2 separate regions of the Homo sapiens genome follow, and region 1 is linked to region 2. The links come from fine-mapping of genetic effects on gene expression. A gene starts in region 2. The other region holds a variant in brackets. All regions are shown on one strand. Distances are between the middles of the regions.

The links. PIP is the estimated chance that this variant, and not a neighbour inherited with it, causes the effect.
Region 1: its variant is fine-mapped to the expression of IGFBP4 in whole blood (TOPMed, PIP above 0.99). The same link has a PIP of 0.9 or more in T cells and blood mononuclear cells.

What each region holds. Positions count from the first base shown.
Region 1 is chr17:40,472,418-40,481,529 of GRCh38, reverse strand. TNS4 (tensin 4) reads left to right here. Exons shown (of 13, transcript NM_032865.6): 9 at 762-830; 10 at 1,688-1,856; 11 at 2,882-2,950; 12 at 3,197-3,223; 13 at 3,801-5,696. The coding sequence ends at 3,942. Among named protein-coding and RNA genes, the nearest start is that of TNS4, 25 kb to the left of the region's middle. RefSeq lists a silencer at 46-231 and enhancers at 214-1,413, 8,972-9,112. The variant C/A (reference allele first, on the strand shown) is at 5,196.
Region 2 is chr17:40,438,062-40,447,053 of GRCh38, reverse strand. IGFBP4 (insulin like growth factor binding protein 4) reads right to left here and starts at 3,604. Exons shown (of 4, transcript NM_001552.3): 1 at 2,970-3,604. The coding sequence starts at 3,318. It also overlaps the pseudogene RPL23AP75. RefSeq lists silencers at 3,398-3,447, 3,458-3,507, 3,518-3,707 and an enhancer at 5,754-5,803.

The DNA of each region.
Region 1 (9,112 bases), 34 kb before region 2:
AGCTGGGCGTGGTGGTGGGCGCCTGTAATCCCAGCTACTCAGGAGGCTGAGGCAGGAGAATCACTTGAGCCGGGGAGGCAGAGGTTGCAGTGAGCTAAGATCGCACCACTGCACTCTAGCCTGGGTGACAGAGCGACAGAGCAAGACTTCATCTAAGAAAGAAAGAAAGAGAGAAAGAGAGAAAGAAGGAAGGAAAGGAAGGAAAAGAAAACGAGGGTTCTAGATGTTACGTAATTTGCCCAAAGGCCCACAGAGTCAGACCTTGAACCCAGATCAGCATGCCCTATCCAGAGCATACAGCCAGGTAGGGGGGCAGCTCAGATGAAATAGATCATCTCAGGGGTGTGCAGGAGAAGCTCGAGAAGGGCTGTTTCTGGAAGGGCATCAAGGCAAGGGAGCCCCAGAGGAGCGATGGTGAGAGCCTCCTCGCTTTCTGCAAAGACAGGTCAGGGGTTGAGACAGGGTCCAAAAGAAGTGAGGAGGTCAGGGGCCTGTGAGGACAAGATCATGGCAGCCATCTAAGAGGTGGGGGGGCGAGGAGGGGATGAAGAGATCAAAAGGGTTGCAAACTAAGCATTTAGGGAGCCCAAAGTGGCCTGTTTGCCTAATTACGGTAATCACACCTGGTTTGAGTCACTTCCTGGAGATGGGGGTGGAGGTGGGAGATCTTCAAAGGGATTCATGAGGCCTGTTCCTGTGAGAGGGGTCCATTCACTCCACCCCCGCCCCTTTGGGGGGCCTGTTTCTTTGCCTTGGCTCAGAACTGGGAGGTGCAGATGGGGCCTCGGACTCTACAGACAGCCCAGCCTCCTGCCAGAAGAAATCTGCGGGTGAGTGGTACAGGAAGGGAGGCGCCAAGCTTGGCTGTGCCCCAAGAGGGCACCTCCCAACCCTGCACACACGCACGCATGCACGCACACACGCACAGGCACACACGTGTTTCCCATCTCAGCTTTGTTTCTGCATCTTTAACAAGGTGCCACACCCGCTCCCCATCACCCCTGTAAAACAGAAGATGAGAGGCCAGCAGGGAAGTGGGGCAGGGTGGGGGGTGGGGGGAGTGGCAGAACTTACAGTCCCTCCTGCACACACATGGGCATGTGCACACGTGCTAGGGTCTCTCTAGGTCTGAGAAACCTGCCCTAGAGGTGGTTCTGGGTCTGGGATCCTCTATGGGGTGTCAGGTCTAAGTCCTGGAGCCTTCACCAGGGGAAAGGTCCCTGACCCACACTCCCAGAGGCCAGCACACATCAGCACTTGTCTCAGTGACTGTTCCTGCTCTATGCCCTGAGCACGAACAATTTCCTTCCCCATTCTTGTCTTCTGTCCCTACCGTTGCCAATGAACCAAGACCTTGAAGATGGAGGTGTGGGGAGGAGAGCAGCCGTTAAGTGTGGACAGAAGGATGTTTTCCTGGGCACCTCTACACACAGGGCAACATCCCCTCCCCTGCCCCATGCTGGAGGGCCAGGGGCCAGGGCGATGCAAAGCCACAGAAGATCCCAAAGCCCTCTGGGGTTGGCCTCAAACTGTGATCACCCACACACCCACTTTCTGTTGGGTGGCGGCTCTAAGAGGAGCTCCACTGGATTCCTGAACAGGAGACTCACCCCCTCCCCTGGCCCTGGGCAGAGGGAGAACCTGGGCCCTGGGTCAGTGGCCCCAGCGCAGTGTCTGCCTCCCACAGGCTGCCACACCCTGTACCTGAGCTCAGTGAGCGTGGAGACCCTGACTGGAGCCCTGGCCGTGCAGAAAGCCATCTCCACCACCTTTGAGAGGGACATCCTCCCCACGCCCACCGTGGTCCACTTCAAAGTCACAGAGCAGGGCATCACTCTGACTGATGTCCAGAGGAAGTAAGGGCCTTCCCTTGCCCTGGGGCTCCGGGGCTGGCGGAGTAGAGCTGGAGGGGATAGCTGAGACAGCTGCAGATCAGGGATGAAGGTCAAGTTCAGGGTTCTGGATGACCCAGCGGGGCCAGTGATGTGCTGAGTGACTCCAGGCAGCTTCCCTGCCTCCTCCAGGCCTCACTCCACTGCCAAAGCCCCTGTTCATCATGACTGATGAAAATGGAGTTAACGGGGGCCGGGCACGGTGGCTCATGCCTGTAATCCCAGCACTTTGGGAGGCCGAGGCGGGCGGATCACCTGAGGTCAGGAGTTCGAGACCAGCCTGGTCAACATGATGAAACCCCGTCTCTACTAAAAATACAAAATTAGCCGGGCATGGTGGCACGCACCTGTAATCCCAGCTACTTGGGAGGCTGAGGCAGGAGAATTGCTTGAACCCAGGAGGCGGAGGTTGTAGTGAGCTGAGAGCACGCCATTGCACTCCAACCTGGGTGACAGAGTGAAACTCCATCTCAAAAAAGGAAGGAAGGAAGGAAGGAAATGGAGTTAACTAGTATTCATGGGTGCCGATTATGCCTGCACCCATTGATGGAACATCTTCCCTCGGCCAGACTGGCTGACCACTGGGACCCAGAGAGGAATGAGATCGTTCCTTCCCCAGGCTCGGATCTCACAGTCTAACAGGAGCCTGATCCAGGGCTGAGCACTTCACAGGGAGAAACAAGAGATGACCAAGATGTAATTCGTGTCCTCAAAAAGTTAGTGGCCAAAAAAAATTAAATGGCGTGGTAGGGGTGTGATAGAAAACCCCAGAGTGTAAGACAGAGGCAGACAAGCCCCATGAGAGGAGAGAGGCAGGAGCGGGGCGCCAGGGCCCCCCAGTGGGAAAGGCCATAGCGGTCTTCAAGGTCTAACCCAGAGACTTCTTGGAGGACAGGGCACCTGAGCTTGGGGGGAACGAGAGATGCTGGAGGCAGGATGACACTGGGACAGGCTGTCATCGCTTCCCTTCTCTCCCCGCCTCCTCCTAGGGTGTTTTTCCGGCGCCATTACCCACTCACCACCCTCCGCTTCTGTGGTATGGACCCTGAGCAACGGAAGTAAGTTCAAGGCTGGGCCAAACTAAGAAGGCTGTCCAGGGCCCCGCTGCCCACCAAGGCGTCCTGCCGACTCTGGGCCTGGGATCCCAGAGGGAGCCTGTGAACCTCAAGGGGTCAGGGTGACAGAATGAGGGTAGGGTGGGGCATGGTGGGGTGGGGACGCAGCTGGCCAGTCCTGCTGCTCCTCCAGGGTCCTGTGGCATGGAGCGAAGCCTCATTACTCGGTATCATGTTCTTTTCCTACAGGTGGCAGAAGTACTGCAAACCCTCCTGGTAAGGCCTTCCTGTCTCAGGGCCCCAAACCCAACATGGGGAGGGAACTGCAGAAGGAAAGAGGCACCATTCTGACTTTAATAGTCCAAAGTGTTGATGAGGGCACAGGCCCTGGTCCTCAGGGAGCTCCCATCTGATGGGAAAGACTTTGACTGCCCTCAGAGCCTCTGGGCTGTTGGGGGTGACATGAGCCTGGGAGCCCTCAATCTTCTGCAAGAGGCACAGGCTCTAACTTCAGGGAGCCTCAAGCTATTGGAATGTCCCAGTCTGATGATCAAGATGCATCCTTGCCCTCAGGGAGCTTCCACTCTAATGGGGAATGCACAGGTCCTGTCCTCAAGGAGCCCTCACTCAAAACAAAGGAAACCCAGAGCTTGAACTCAGAAATCTCCCAGTCTGACGGGAGAGGCATCTCCTTCCCCAGGGAGCCCCACCATAAGGAGGTGCTGGAGTCAATTGGCTAAGGGAGGGGCAGGGAGGAATGAGATGCAGGCTGAGGGCCCCCCACCACCCCATTCCCACCAGCCTGATGCCTCCCTGGGTCCCACCCCTCACTCAGACTGCCCTCCCCCACCAGGATCTTTGGGTTTGTGGCCAAGAGCCAGACAGAGCCTCAGGAGAACGTATGCCACCTCTTTGCGGAGTATGACATGGTCCAGCCAGCCTCGCAGGTCATCGGCCTGGTGACTGCTCTGCTGCAGGACGCAGAAAGGATGTAGGGGAGAGACTGCCTGTGCACCTAACCAACACCTCCAGGGGCTCGCTAAGGAGCCCCCCTCCACCCCCTGAATGGGTGTGGCTTGTGGCCATATTGACAGACCAATCTATGGGACTAGGGGGATTGGCATCAAGTTGACACCCTTGAACCTGCTATGGCCTTCAGCAGTCACCATCATCCAGACCCCCCGGGCCTCAGTTTCCTCAATCATAGAAGAAGACCAATAGACAAGATCAGCTGTTCTTAGATGCTGGTGGGCATTTGAACATGCTCCTCCATGATTCTGAAGCATGCACACCTCTGAAGACCCCTGCATGAAAATAACCTCCAAGGACCCTCTGACCCCATCGACCTGGGCCCTGCCCACACAACAGTCTGAGCAAGAGACCTGCAGCCCCTGTTTCGTGGCAGACAGCAGGTGCCTGGCGGTGACCCACGGGGCTCCTGGCTTGCAGCTGGTGATGGTCAAGAACTGACTACAAAACAGGAATGGATAGACTCTATTTCCTTCCATATCTGTTCCTCTGTTCCTTTTCCCACTTTCTGGGTGGCTTTTTGGGTCCACCCAGCCAGGATGCTGCAGGCCAAGCTGGGTGTGGTATTTAGGGCAGCTCAGCAGGGGGAACTTGTCCCCATGGTCAGAGGAGACCCAGCTGTCCTGCACCCCCTTGCAGATGAGTATCACCCCATCTTTTCTTTCCACTTGGTTTTTATTTTTATTTTTTTTTGAGACAGAGTCTCACTGTCACCCAGGCTGAACTGCAGTGGTGTGATCTAGGCTCACTGCAACCTCCACCTCCCAGGTTCAAGCAATTATCCTGCCTCAGGCTCCCAAGTAGCTGGGATTACAGGCATGTGCAACTCACCCAGCTAATTTTGTATTTTTAGTAGAGACAGGGTTTCACCATGTTGGCCAGGCTGGTCTTGAACTCCTGACCGCAGGTAATCCACCTGCTTCGGCCTCCCAAAGTGCTGGGATTACAGGCGCAAGCCACCCAGCCCAGCTTCTTTCCATTCCTTGATAGGCGAGTATTCCAAAGCTGGTATCGTAGCTGCCCTAATGTTGCATATTAGGCGGCGGGGGCAGAGATAAGGGCCATCTCTCTGTGATTCTGCCTCAGCTCCTGTCTTGCTGAGCCCTCCCCCAACCCACGCTCCAACACACACACACACACACACACACACACACACACACACACACACACACACACACACACACGCCCCTCTACTGCTATGTGGCTTCAACCAGCCTCA[C/A]AGCCACACGGGGGAAGCAGAGAGTCAAGAATGCAAAGAGGCCGCTTCCCTAAGAGGCTTGGAGGAGCTGGGCTCTATCCCACACCCACCCCCACCCCACCCCCACCCAGCCTCCAGAAGCTGGAACCATTTCTCCCGCAGGCCTGAGTTCCTAAGGAAACCACCCTACCGGGGTGGAAGGGAGGGTCAGGGAAGAAACCCACTCTTGCTCTACGAGGAGCAAGTGCCTGCCCCCTCCCAGCAGCCAGCCCTGCCAAAGTTGCATTATCTTTGGCCAAGGCTGGGCCTGACGGTTATGATTTCAGCCCTGGGCCTGCAGGAGAGGCTGAGACCAGCCCACCCAGCCAGTGGTCGAGCACTGCCCCGCCGCCAAAGTCTGCAGAATGTGAGATGAGGTTCTCAAGGTCACAGGCCCCAGTCCCAGCCTGGGGGCTGGCAGAGGCCCCCATATACTCTGCTACAGCTCCTATCATGAAAAATAAAATGTTTGTCTTTGCAAAACAGTAAGTTCTGAGGCAGTCAGGGCTGTGCCCTTGGAAATGGAGACCTGAAGAGAGAAGGGGGACTGACTTGGGAGGGCGTGGCTGTGTCTTAGGGGAGACCAGGTGTGCCACACTCCCTCCCGCACCCCTGGCCACGGCGCTACAGGCTCAGCAGGCTTCCACTTCGTAAACCATTGCTTAAACCACTCTGTGTCCCCCACATGCCCAACACGCTTGTTCTTCTTTCTTCATCGCCCCTTTCCTGCCACTCTGCCAGGGAAACAAAAGGATTGTGATTTCCCGGGGCCCAAAGTGAGTGTGTACGGTGCCCCTGACGGATTCCAAGGTCTCACTCAGCCCCCACTGAGAGACAAGGAGAGGCGGGCAAAACATGAACCCCTCAAGAGGAGTCCGGAAGAGTCCCCGAACCCAGATGGCCCCAGAGCTGCCAGCTCCGCCCTGAAGAGCTGGACTGTGGTCGGGTGTGGTGGCTCGCACCTGTAATCCCAGCACTTTGGGAGGCCAAAGCGGGAGGATGGATTGAACCTAGGAGTTCGAGACCAGCCTGGGCAACATAGGGAGACCCTGTCTCTACAAAAAAAATACAAAAAGTTAGCCAGACGTGGTGGCACATACCTGTAGCCCCAGCTACTTGGGAGGCTGCGGTGAGAAGATCCCTTGAGCCTGGGGGGTCAAGGCTGCAGTGAGCTGTGGTTGTGCCACTGTACTCCAGCCTGAGTGACAGAGTGAGACCCTGTCTCAAAAAAAAAAAAAGAAAAGAAAAAGAACTGGACCATGGCCTCTTGATCCCACCCTGGGCCTGGGGAGTTCTACCCCCAGCTCCTTCCAGTGGCAGTCCTCCCCTAAGCCAGTCCCAGAGGAATGCCTCCCTCCCAGACCTGCTCCAGACTTCGCTGCAACTAGGGAGCCAAGGCTGGCATGCCCTGAGAAGGCCTCAGCAAGCGATGCAAGAGAGGCTATGGCACTTCTGTTCTCCTGAAAAGTTTTGGGAATGGGAGAGCGCCTCCTTCTCTCTGGGCTGAGCTATGTGACCCAGTGGCAGGGGCCTTGAACCACCGCTGGTTAGCCTCTGCCTCCCTTTCCACTGCCCCAGTGCAGTTCCAGATGGAGACTCCTCTCAGTCTCCTCTCAGTCTCCTGCTGTGGCCCCGCTTGGCCCAGCATGGAACAGAGTTCGTGGAAGGCGATCATTTCTGCTGCATTTGCCACAGCTCATGTTTCCCCTAAGAAGGTTTAGCGGAGAACTTGACTTAAGACTGCTGAGGGCAAAGCAGCCAGCCCGGCAGGGGTGGGAGGGCTGGACAGCAGAGGGGAGGCAGGATAACCACTGAGCCAGGAACCAGGAGGGGAGGAGCCATCTTATCCACCCAAGGACACCAGAGGAGTGTTCTCTCCAGGAGGCTCCAGGCCTTATAGCCCTGGGTCTTAACCCCTGCCGCAGCCCTCGCTCCAGTGTCTCTCTCCCCAGTCTTTTCATCCCTCTCCATCCCTTTCTTGATCTCCGTACACACTCATACCACCCACCCTCCCTCCCTCTCTTCTCCCACTTCCCCTCTCTCCTTTCTCACCATCTCTCCTCATTATGCCTTCTCTACTCGATCACCCCTTTGCAGAGAAACCTTTCCTCCTTCTTGCTCTTTTCCAGTTGAATTTCCTCGCCCCGTTGTCCCAGGTGGCTGGACATGCAGCAGAAGGGAACTGGGGAGACTCTCGCACTGCCAATCATTTCTCAAAACTCAGGTTCCAGTTTGAGACCCGCCTGGCCAACATGGTGAAACCCCATCTCTACAAAAAATACAAAAATTAGCCGGGCAAGGTAGCGCACCTGTAGTCCCAGGTACTCGGGAGACTGAGGCATGAGAATCCCTTGAAACTGGGAGGCGGAAGTTGCAGTGAGCTGTGATCGTGCCACTGCACTCCAGCCTGGTTGACAGAGCAACATGCTATCTCTAAAACAAACAAACAAACAAAAACTCAGGTTCCCACACCCTCTAAACCCTGCCTGCTCTCAGGCTACAGAGACCTCTCCAGGAGGCTGAAGTGCCCTTACCCCGACCATCTGACCAGCCACCGCCCCATGCCCGTGCCCCACCGAGGGCGGAGGCTGCTCACTGCTCTGTTTTATCTCTGGCCTCTGATCCTGCATTCTTGTGCCAGGGCTTAGACCCAGGGCAAGGTCTTAGACCCAGGGCAGGGGTAGGGTTAAAGGCTTTCAACCCAGGGGCCAGTGCCTTAATTCATGCAACAAATGTTTTCTGGCTGTGTGCTTTATTCATGTGAACCAGGAAAACAGAAAAATATGACAGTGTTTCCAACAGAGGTTTATAAGTGCTATGCAGGGCTGGTGGAAAGAGTAGAAACTGAGAAAGATAAACTTTACCCACTTGAAGGGAAGGAGGGCAATGTTACCAAGAAGGTAACATTTGAGTTGGGTCTTCAAGGATGAATAGGAGTTCGGCATGCAAAGAGAGTTAGAAACCAACTTTTAGGAGTGGGGAGGGGCTCTCATGTGCTACATACAATCTGAGGCACATTATATAAGCCTAATCCCATTTTACAGATTAGAAAACTGGGGCTCAGAGGGTTAACTTGCCCACATTCACCTAACTGTAAATGGCAGAGAAACAGGATTTCAAGTCCATGCCCATCCTATTGCCCCAGCATTCACAGAAAGCAGATGGAGACATTCGTGTGTGAAGCACACAGGTATGAAAAGATGTACCAAGTTTGGTGTGGCTCAAGTACATGGTACCTAAGGGAGTAGGTGAGAGAGAAAGCAGAAGAAAAAGACAGCAACAGGACCCTCAGGACCCTTGGGTGCCAGCTGAGAATGTCTGGAGATTGAATACTTGCTGAATGAAGGAGATGGGACTCAGGCCTGCTGTGTATGATTTTGTGGGCTATGCAGTGCATGGTCATACATGGCACCCTGCTTGGGCTTTATCCCATAGGTAATGAGGATGAGATAGGAAGCGGGACTGCACTCCAGAGGCAGGGCTTGGACACAGGTCCAAACTGAGGACTAGCTAAAACAGGGATGGGGTGGGAGGAGCTTTCCATAAGACACACCCACCAGTGTGACATGTCAGTTTACCATTGCCGTGGCAACACCCAGAAATTACCACCCCTTTCCATGGCAGCAACAACCTAATGACCCAGAAGTTATCACCCTTTTTCTACAAATCTCTGCATAATCTGCCCCTTAATTTGCATGTGTTTAAAAGTGGGTGCAAATATGAGTGTGGAAGCTACTGAGCTGCAGCTCTCAGCACACTGGGGTAGCCCTGCTCTGCAGGAGCAGTCACAGGGCTGTGACACTGCCACCTCTAGAAAGCTGCTTTCTTCTATCACCGCTTGCCCTTGAATTATTCCCTGAATGAAGCCAAGAACCCTCCCAGGCTAAGCCCCAATTTGG
Region 2 (8,992 bases):
CTATTCGCGGGCCAGTGGGCCCAAACCTTGGGACCTAAAGCAGACAGTGGCCTACTGACTGTGTAAGGCTAAAAAGATGGGTGGGTAGGGGCTTGGTCGTCTTATCTCACCCACAGACCCTGCAGGGCTGCAGCAGAACTCTAGAGAGTGCCTTTTACATGGTGCCATGTGGCCCAGGTCACAGCAAGGGATTACTTCTATGATGACTAGGAGGTGTGGGAGGGCACGGGCATAGCTTGCTCAGTAGGTACCTCCAGGCTTCCCTCGTCTCTCTCCAGATACCTGCATCCATTGCATGGCTGGAGGCTGGAGGACAAGGCAAGGAGGAAAGGGGGAGGGGCATTACAGACCTTGGCTGTGTCATCCAAAGGGGACCTAAAGCCACCCCATTCCAAGACACCGTTTTTTGTTTTTTTTGTTTATTTGTTTTGTTTTCTTTAGACAGAGTCTCGCTCTGTCACCCAGGCTAAAGCGCAGTGGCACAATCTTGGTTCACTGCAACCTCCACCTCCCGGGTTCAAGTGATTCTCCTGCCTCAGCCTCCCAAGTAGCTGGGACTACAGGCACGCACCACCATGCCCAGCTAATTTTTGTATTTTTAGTAGAGACGAGGTTTCACCATGTTGACCAGGCTGGTCTCAAACTCCTGACCTCAGGTGATTCACCCTCCTCAGCCTCCCAAAATACTGAGATTACAGGTGTGAGCCACTGCACCCGGCCTACTTTTTTTTTTTTTTTTTTTTACGAAATAGAGTCGCCCAGGCTGGAGTGCAATCACGTGATCATAGCTCATTGTAACCTTGAACTTCTCATCTCAGACTCCCAAATACCTGGGACTACAGGCATGAGCCACTGCAGTTGCCTATTTTTTTTTTTTTTTTTTTGTAGAGACGGGGGTCTGGCTATATTGCTCAGGCTGGTCTCGAACTCCTGGCCTCAAGCAATCCTCCCAAAGTGCTGGGATTACAAGCATGAACCTCCACACCCAGCCCCTAGATATTCCTGGAGGCCAGTTTGCATTATATCCAGAGGACAACCACAAAATTCTCATGCCATGCCCTCCCCAAACCCCTAGGGGATCTTATTTTCCTCCACTACAGGATGGAGTATTCCTACCCAACCAGAGGATGAGGTATTCCTACCCAGCCCTTTGAGGGCTCTTCTGTCTTGCATTCAAAGTGCTGAGAGAGGAGGAGGCTACCAGCCATCCTTATCTGGTGCCAGATACCCTCTGGCTGGTGGAGGATGGAGATTCAAAGGGAACGTGACTCTGTTGTACCCCGCGAACCCAAGGGCTCGGCCCTTGCTCCCTCCCAGTCTCAGTACCCCTCCTCTACCATTGCCACTGGCATCTCTGCCCCAAGATTAGCGACTTTCTCCCCCAGGACCCCCCTTCCCAGATATGCTGGGTGCCAGGCTGGCATTTCTCCTAGAATGTTTTCTGCTGACCCATCTCTCCCTACCCAGGGGCAGGAAGGGCAGAGAGGCCCGAGGCCCAGACCCCTGGAGTCCACCTCCTTCCTGTTTTCCCTGCATCCTGCTCTCCTCGGCTGACAAGCTGCAGAGGATTGAGGAAGTGGAGGGTTTGGGTCCCAGGACAGGAAGCTTGGGGCTGGAGTCCCAGCATCCGGACTGCAACAATGGAAGCTTCAAGCACCAGGAAAAGAGACAGAGACAGACAGAGGCACAGGAGAGCAAAACAGGGTCGGAGATGGAATGAGAAACAGAGGCATAGATACAGAAAGACAGACAGAGAGATTCCCAAAGTAACAGGGAAAGACCAACAGTGACAGAGACACAGAGAAACAGCAACAGAAAGAGAGGGAGAGAAGCAGAGCAACTGAAACAGAAACACAGAATAAGGTGGAGAAAGAAACGCACGATGGGCAGAAGACACTGAGGAAAACAGAACTCGAGAGCATGACTAGTGAAACTAGAGGTTGAGAGACAAATCAGGAAGAACAAAAGAGCAAGAGAAAGAAGGAAAAGAGACTGAGAGTCTAAGGAGAAACTGAGAAACAAAAAAAGAAAGTGTAAGAATGAGGTTAGGGCAAGGGCCTTCTCAGAGTCTCTCTCTCTCTCTCTCTCTCTCTCTCTCTCTCTCTCTCTCTCTCTCTCTCTGTCTCTGTGTGTGTGTGTGTGTGTGTGTGTGTGTGTGTGTGTGTGTGTTTCTCTCTCTCTCTCTCTCTCTCTCTGTTTCTCTCCCCTGGCGCCCTGGCCCCTTCTCTATTCCCTATCCCACACACATGAGGCTCCTGCAGCTCTCGGCTAGGAGCCAAGACTTTTCTACCACCTCAAATCCTACCTGCCTGGAGAAAAGAACAGGGGGCCTGTATACCAGGGCAGGCAGAGGTGTCCAGGCCTGGCAGAGGGACCCCTGTCTTCCCACTGCCTCTCAAACAACAAGGTGACCTGGCTCTGGGCTTTGGGGAAGGGCAAGTCTAATGCCCCTCAACGCCAAAGTCCCTCTAATTTGTATGTCCCACTCCACCACTGGACCATGTAAAAAAAAAGTTCAGGCCCTGGCTCCCCAGACCACTGGGATTTCACCCTCGGCCTGGATCAGGAACAGAAAGCTTTCCCCACTCCCTCATCCTCCCCAACACACACCCCACCACCATCCTCCAGTTCTCTGGCCCTAGACAGCTGACTTAACTGGACCTTAATCTGCCACTCCTGCACCAGCAGCCAGGCCTCCCACTGGGACCCCCTTATCAAACAGACAACCCTTGGAGGTTTGAGATGGAGCGATGGGACAGTCTCCCTTGGTGGTGGCAACAGGCTGCTAGGGACTCGGTAGCAGTTTCCTTGATGAGCCTGTCCCATGCCAGTCGGGCCCTGCCACGTACCTGCCTTCTCTTCAACTCATAGGGGATTTTTAAGGGCCTTCCAGGGCGGCTGGAATGGGGAAGAAGCCGCTGGGAAGGGAGCGCACTCAGGAGGGAATTGGGAGGCCAGGGGTACCTTACCAGAGGGCTGCAGGCTTTCCTGGATGGCCTCGATCTCCGCCAGCTCCATGCACACGCCTTGCCCGTGCATCAGTGTGTGCAGGGGCTTCTCCACCCCTCGGGGCGGGTAGCAGCGCAGGCCCGAGCCGCAACGGGGGGTGTACACCCCGCAGGGCATCCCCAAGCCCAGGGCGCAAGTGGCGCAACAGCCGCAGCCCGGCTCTCGCACCAGCTCCTCGCAGCCCACGGGGGGGCGGCAGCGCGCCAGCTTCTCCTCGGAGCAGGGCGGGCAGTGGATGGCTTCGTCGCCCAGGCTCGGCCCGGGCCCGGCGGCCAGCAGCAGGGCGGCCACGAGGCAGAGGGGCAGCATGACCGCCCGAGGACTGGGCGCGGGCGCGGGGCGCTGGGCGCAGGCGGGGAGCGCGGGCGCGCGGGCGAGCGGCGGAGGGCACACGGCGGCAGCGCCTGGCGCTCCTGGAGGACCCGACCCGGAGGGCGCGGGGAGACGGGGCGGCCCGGCGGGCGAACGGGGACGTAGCGGGGGAAGTTAGCAGGCGTGCCGGAGGGGAGCAAGCCTGGCCGCCGAGGCGCTGCGCCGCATCCTCGGCCCGGCCCAGGCAGGCGGCGGGCGGCGAGGGGCAGGGGGCTGAGCGGCTGCCCGGGACCGGCTCCCCCGGACTTTATACCGGTCCCTGGCCACACCCCCAGCGCCTTCCCAGAGGTGGGGGAGCCGGGGCGGGCGAGGGGGAGAGGGAGAGGCGGCCGTTAGGGGGAGGGGGCGCTGTCCTGAGTCGCCGCCGCCGCCGCCGCCGCATCTGAAAGTCCTTTTCTGCCGAAGAAGGAAGCGGCGCAGTTTGGAAGCTGTAGCAGGCGCCCAGAGTGCCTCTGAACCGGAGCCCCGGAGGGGAGGCAAGGGAGAAGGGAAGCCAAGGGGCTGCTGCGGGGCCCCCTTTCCCGACCTCGGAGGAGTCTCGTCCCGCCCCGCCAAGGCGGCCTCAGTCTCCCACCGAGAAAGGGACTTCCTAGCCCGGACTCCCGGCTCTGCGGATCCGGTCTTCCTGGACAGAGCCCTTTCCACCGCACCCCGGTGCTTCCAGCCTCAACCGCTGGAGACCAAGCCTCCTGAGGTGGGGTAAAGCGTACAGGCACAGCTAGGGGCACAGAAAGGCCTGGAGGCCCTAAGACGTTAACAGGCTCTTGCCACTTGCCCCTTGCAACCTCTCCCGCCCCCGCAATCTCCCCAGGGCGCATTTGGGCCCTGGTCCACCCTGCTTCCCCAAGATGGAATCAGCAGAACTCCCGGGGAGGGAGGTGCCGCCGAGCCTCTTCCTCCTTCTTGGATGTTTGCCTCTCAGGCCCATTCAGACCCACTCGTGGAGGGAGGCAGGCCTGGGAGATTGCCACTTGCAATGTGCAAGTTTTGCGTTGAACAACTCCAGTGGGGCACCATTCCTTGTAATCATTGTGTATTTGTAGAGCTGTTGTGATCATTTCCCAGATGGCAGTGAAGGATTTGAGGGGCCTGCAGCAGTGACTCACACCTGTAATGTCAGCACTTTTGGAGGCTGAGGCGGGAGGATCACTTGAGCCCAGGAGTTCAAGACCAGTCTGGGCAACGTAGTGAGACCTTGTCTCTACAAAAAAATTTTAAAATTAGCCAGGTGTGGTGGCGTTCACCTGTGGTCCCAGGTACTCGGGAGCCTGAGGCAAGAGGATCACTTGAGCCCAGGAGTTGGAGGCTGCAGTGAGCTAGAATTGTACCACTGCACACCAGCCTAGGTGAAAGAAGGAAACTCTGTCTAAAAAAGAAAGAAAGAAAGAAGGCCGGGCGCGGTGGCTCACGCCTGTAATCCCAGCACTTTGGGAGGCCGAGGCGGGCAGATCACGAGGTCAGGAAATCGAGACCATCCTGGCTAGCACGGTGAAACCCCCTCTCTACTAAAAATACAAAAAGTTAGCCGGGCGTGGTGGCGGGTGCCTGTAGTCCCAGCTACTAGGGAGGCTGAGGCAGGAGAATGGCATGATCCCGGGAGGTGGAGCTTGCAGTGAGCTGAGATTGCGCCACTGCACTCCAACCTGGGCGACAGAGCGAGACTCCATCTCAAAAAAAAAAAGAAAGAAAGAGAAAAAAGAAGGCCAGGCGTAGTGGCTCATGCCTGTAATCCTAGCACTTTGGGAGGCCAAGGTGGGCAGATCACCTGAGGTCAGGAGTTTGAGACCAGTCTGGCCAACACGGTGAAACCCCATCTCTACTAAAAATACAAAAATTAGCCGGGCGTGGTGGCGCATGCCTGTAATCCCAGCTACTTGGGAGGCTGAGGCAGAAGAATCGCTTGAACCCCAGGAGGAGGAGGTTACAGTGATCCAAGATCATACCACTGCACTCCAGTCCAGGTGACAGAGCAAGACTCTGTCTCAAAAAAAAAAAAAAAAAAGAATTTTAAGGAAGGGATGCTTTTTTAATTCACCCAGTGTTGCTACTTGGGCTAGTGTTGGGCCTGGCTTGACCCTCTGTAAAATCCTATTGATCCCTATTCCCCCAGCCTTGCCCAATCCTGCCCAAATTGAGAAGAGCCCTGGAGTGGCATTTGGAGCAAAGATCCATCTCCTAGGTTCCCTCTCAGGCCCCCGCTAATTCCCACCCATTCTTCCCTACAAAGGCTTCTGCTGTACTGGAGCTGGTTTCAGGTTAAGCGTACCTGTCCAGGAATAATCAGTAACCCACTGTGGATTTTTTTTTTTTTTTGTCTCGGCCTAGAAAGCTGCAGGTCAGCCAAGCTGAAATGCAGTTCAGAGACCCTCTTCCTGCTTCTTCCCCCAGGACAGGGGTCTTTCAGCCTCACGGGGATTGGGCTACCTCCTACTTACTGAGAGATGATTGCAGGGAGATTGGGACTGGCAGCCGGACCTGCAGGACAGACCAAAAAGTTGCAAACTGACGGCACCTACTGGCAACCATCAAGACTGCAGAAGGGCTGGAAAGTGATGGCTGGGGCCAAGATTCTGGGGTTCTCTCCATTCCATCTCATAGATGAAGTGGGGACCCTTCTGCCCCATATGCCTTGGAGAAGGGCAAACAGAACCAGCTTCCTCAAGTCCCTGGGGAAGCCCAGCCTGTGCCTGATTCAGAAAACTGCCCCCAGGCCGGGCATGGTGGCTCACGGCTGTAATTCCAGCACTTAGGGAGGCCAAGGCGGGTGGATCATGAGGTCAGGAGATCGAGACCATCGTGGCTAACACGGGGAAACCTCGTCTCTACTAAAAATAAAAAAAATTAGTCAGGCGTGGTGGCACGTGCCTGTAGTCCCAGCTACTCAGGAGGCTGAGGCAGGAGAATCGCTTGAACCCAGGAGATGGAGGTTGTAGTGAGCCGAGATCACACCACTGCACTCCAGCCTAGGCAACAGAGCAGGATTCAGTCTCAAAAAAAGAAAAAAAGAAAAGAAAACGTTCCCCACCCCATCTCCTTCCTTGATCATCACTGGACCCTGTTCTGCCACCAACTTGCGTGAACTTGGAGTTTGACTGACCTTAGCTGTAACATGGAGGTAGATCATCTCCACCCATCCTACCTCTTGAAGCTCTTGTGAGAGTAAAATGAATGGAGAAGAGTAGTTCTGCTCCCAATGCCAGACATGTGCCCTGTTCAGCAAGCCCAAGAGGAGAAAAGGTGCCAGGACACAGAGGCAGGAGTGCAGGAGAGGCCGGACAAACCCACGCAACATGCCTGGGATGAAGCATGAGTGCAGGTGAGTGTGGGAATCTGCAAAGGTTGCCAGATGAGACAGATTCCCACACCTCAACGCCAGCCCCTCAGTCCATCCTCTGGTGTCCCTCCACCCCTCATCATTGGGTTAATTCCAAGGAGGCAGGAAGATGCACAGGAAAGAGGCCTTCCAAGCACCTCCTACCATTCATGTAACACAGATTTACTGAACGCCTAATATGCACAGGCTTTATGCTACATACCAGGGATGCAGAGATGACCAAGATCACCCCCTGCCCTCAAGGAGCTCACTGCCTAATGAGGGACGATAGTATGTAAATAAAATAAATCTGAGAAGTGTGCAGGTGCCCTGGGAGATGTTCATATGGGGCACAATGGGGATCCAGAGCCACAGGTGGTCAGTTTTACATTCAGGGCATACAGGCTGAAAGTCTTCATTAGAGATGATCCTTTTTCACAAGACGGTGCTGAAGGCAAAGAAAGAATCTCCTGCCCCTCTTAAAGCCGAACTCAAGAAGGCAGTGTTGAAAGGTGTCCACAGCCACAAAAAGAAAGAAGATCCACAGGTCACCCACCTTCCGGCGGCCCAAGACACTGCGACTCCGGAGGCAGCCCAAATATCCTCAGAAGAGCGCCCCCAGGAGAAACAAGCTTGACCACTATGCTATCACTAAGTTTCCACTGACCACTGAGTCTGCCATGAAGAAGATAGAAGACAACAACACACTTGTGTTCATTGTGAATGTTAAAGCCAACAAGCACTAGATCAAACAGGCTGTGAAGAAGCTCTATGACATTGATGTGGCCAAGGTCAACACCCCGATTCAGCCTGATGGAGAGAAGAAGGCATATGTTGGACTGGCTCCTGATTACGATGCTTTGGATGTTGCCAACAAAATTGGGATCGTCTAAACTGAGTCCAGCTGTCCAATTCTAAATATATGTATATCTTTTCACCATAAAAAATAAAAAGAGAGAGATGATCCTTGAGCCAATGGCCTTCCATGCTACAAGAATCAGCACAGTGTGAGTGTCACAATGACCTGGATTCTGACCCCAGCCGTGTCACTGGGCTCACTAGGAAACCTAAAACAAGTTACTTGAGCTCTCTGAGCTTCAGGCCTTATCTGGAAAATGGGACTTTGCAGCAAGAAAGAGAGAGAGACCTATCCAAATTGCCTGGCACATAGTAAGCACCAAGTGTTTGCTCCCTCCTACCCCTCTCCTGCTGGGAACTGTAACTTCTCCACATGGCTGAGACCCCCTGGTGGCAAGACCTGTGTCTCCCCCACTGAACTAGAGGCTCTCAGAAGACTGGGTTTAGTGTCCCCCTTCAGCCTGCAAGTGTCGTGTCTGGGAGAGGCTGTATAAAGAGCATGGGGCCAGGCATGGTGGCTCGCGTCTGTAATCCCAGCACTTTGGGAGGCCAAGGCAGGTGGATCGCTTGAGCGCAGGAGTTCAAGACCAGCCTGGGCAACCTGGCAAAACATTGTCTCTGCAAAAAAAAAATACAAAAACTAGTCAGGCATGGTGGCATGCACCTGTGATCCTAGCTGCTTGGGAGGCTGAGGTAGCAGAATCACTTGAGCCCAGGAAGTCGAGGTTGCAGTCAGCCAAGATAGCTCACTGCACTCCAGCTTGGGCAACAGAGTGAAACCCTGTCTCAAAAAAAAAAAAAAAAAAAAAAATTAGCCAGCTATGGTAGCATGAGCCTATAGTCCTAGCTATTCAGGAGGCTGAAGCAGGAGGGTCCCTTGAGCCCAAGGGTTCAAGGCTGCAGTGAACTATGAGTGCCACTGCACTCCAGCCTGGGTAACAGAGACAGACCTGGTCTCTTAAAAATAAAAAATAAAATTGTTTCTAAAAAGAGCAGGACGGACGCGGTGGCTCACGCCTGTAATCCCAGCACTTTGGGAGGCCGAGGCAGGTGGATCACCTGAGGTCAGGAATTCAAGACCAGACTGACCAACATGGTGAAACCCTGTCTCTCCTAAAAACACAAAAAGTTAGCCGGGCATGGTGGCGTGTGCCTGTAATCCCAGCTACTGGGGAGGCTGAGGCAGGAGAATCACTTGAACCTGGGAGGGGGAGATTGCGGTGAGCCAAGATGGCACCATTGCACTCCAGCCTGGGCTACAGGAGTGAAACTCTGTCTCAAAAAAAAAAAAAAGTTAACACAGTAGTCACAGACTACATGCAGGATAGGGATCTAAGTGCTTCACTCATGAGCACTTCACAGCAACCTCGTGAACTAGGCACTATCACCATCCCGTTTTTAAGACAAGGAAACAGAGGCATGGAGAGGTTTGTAACTTAC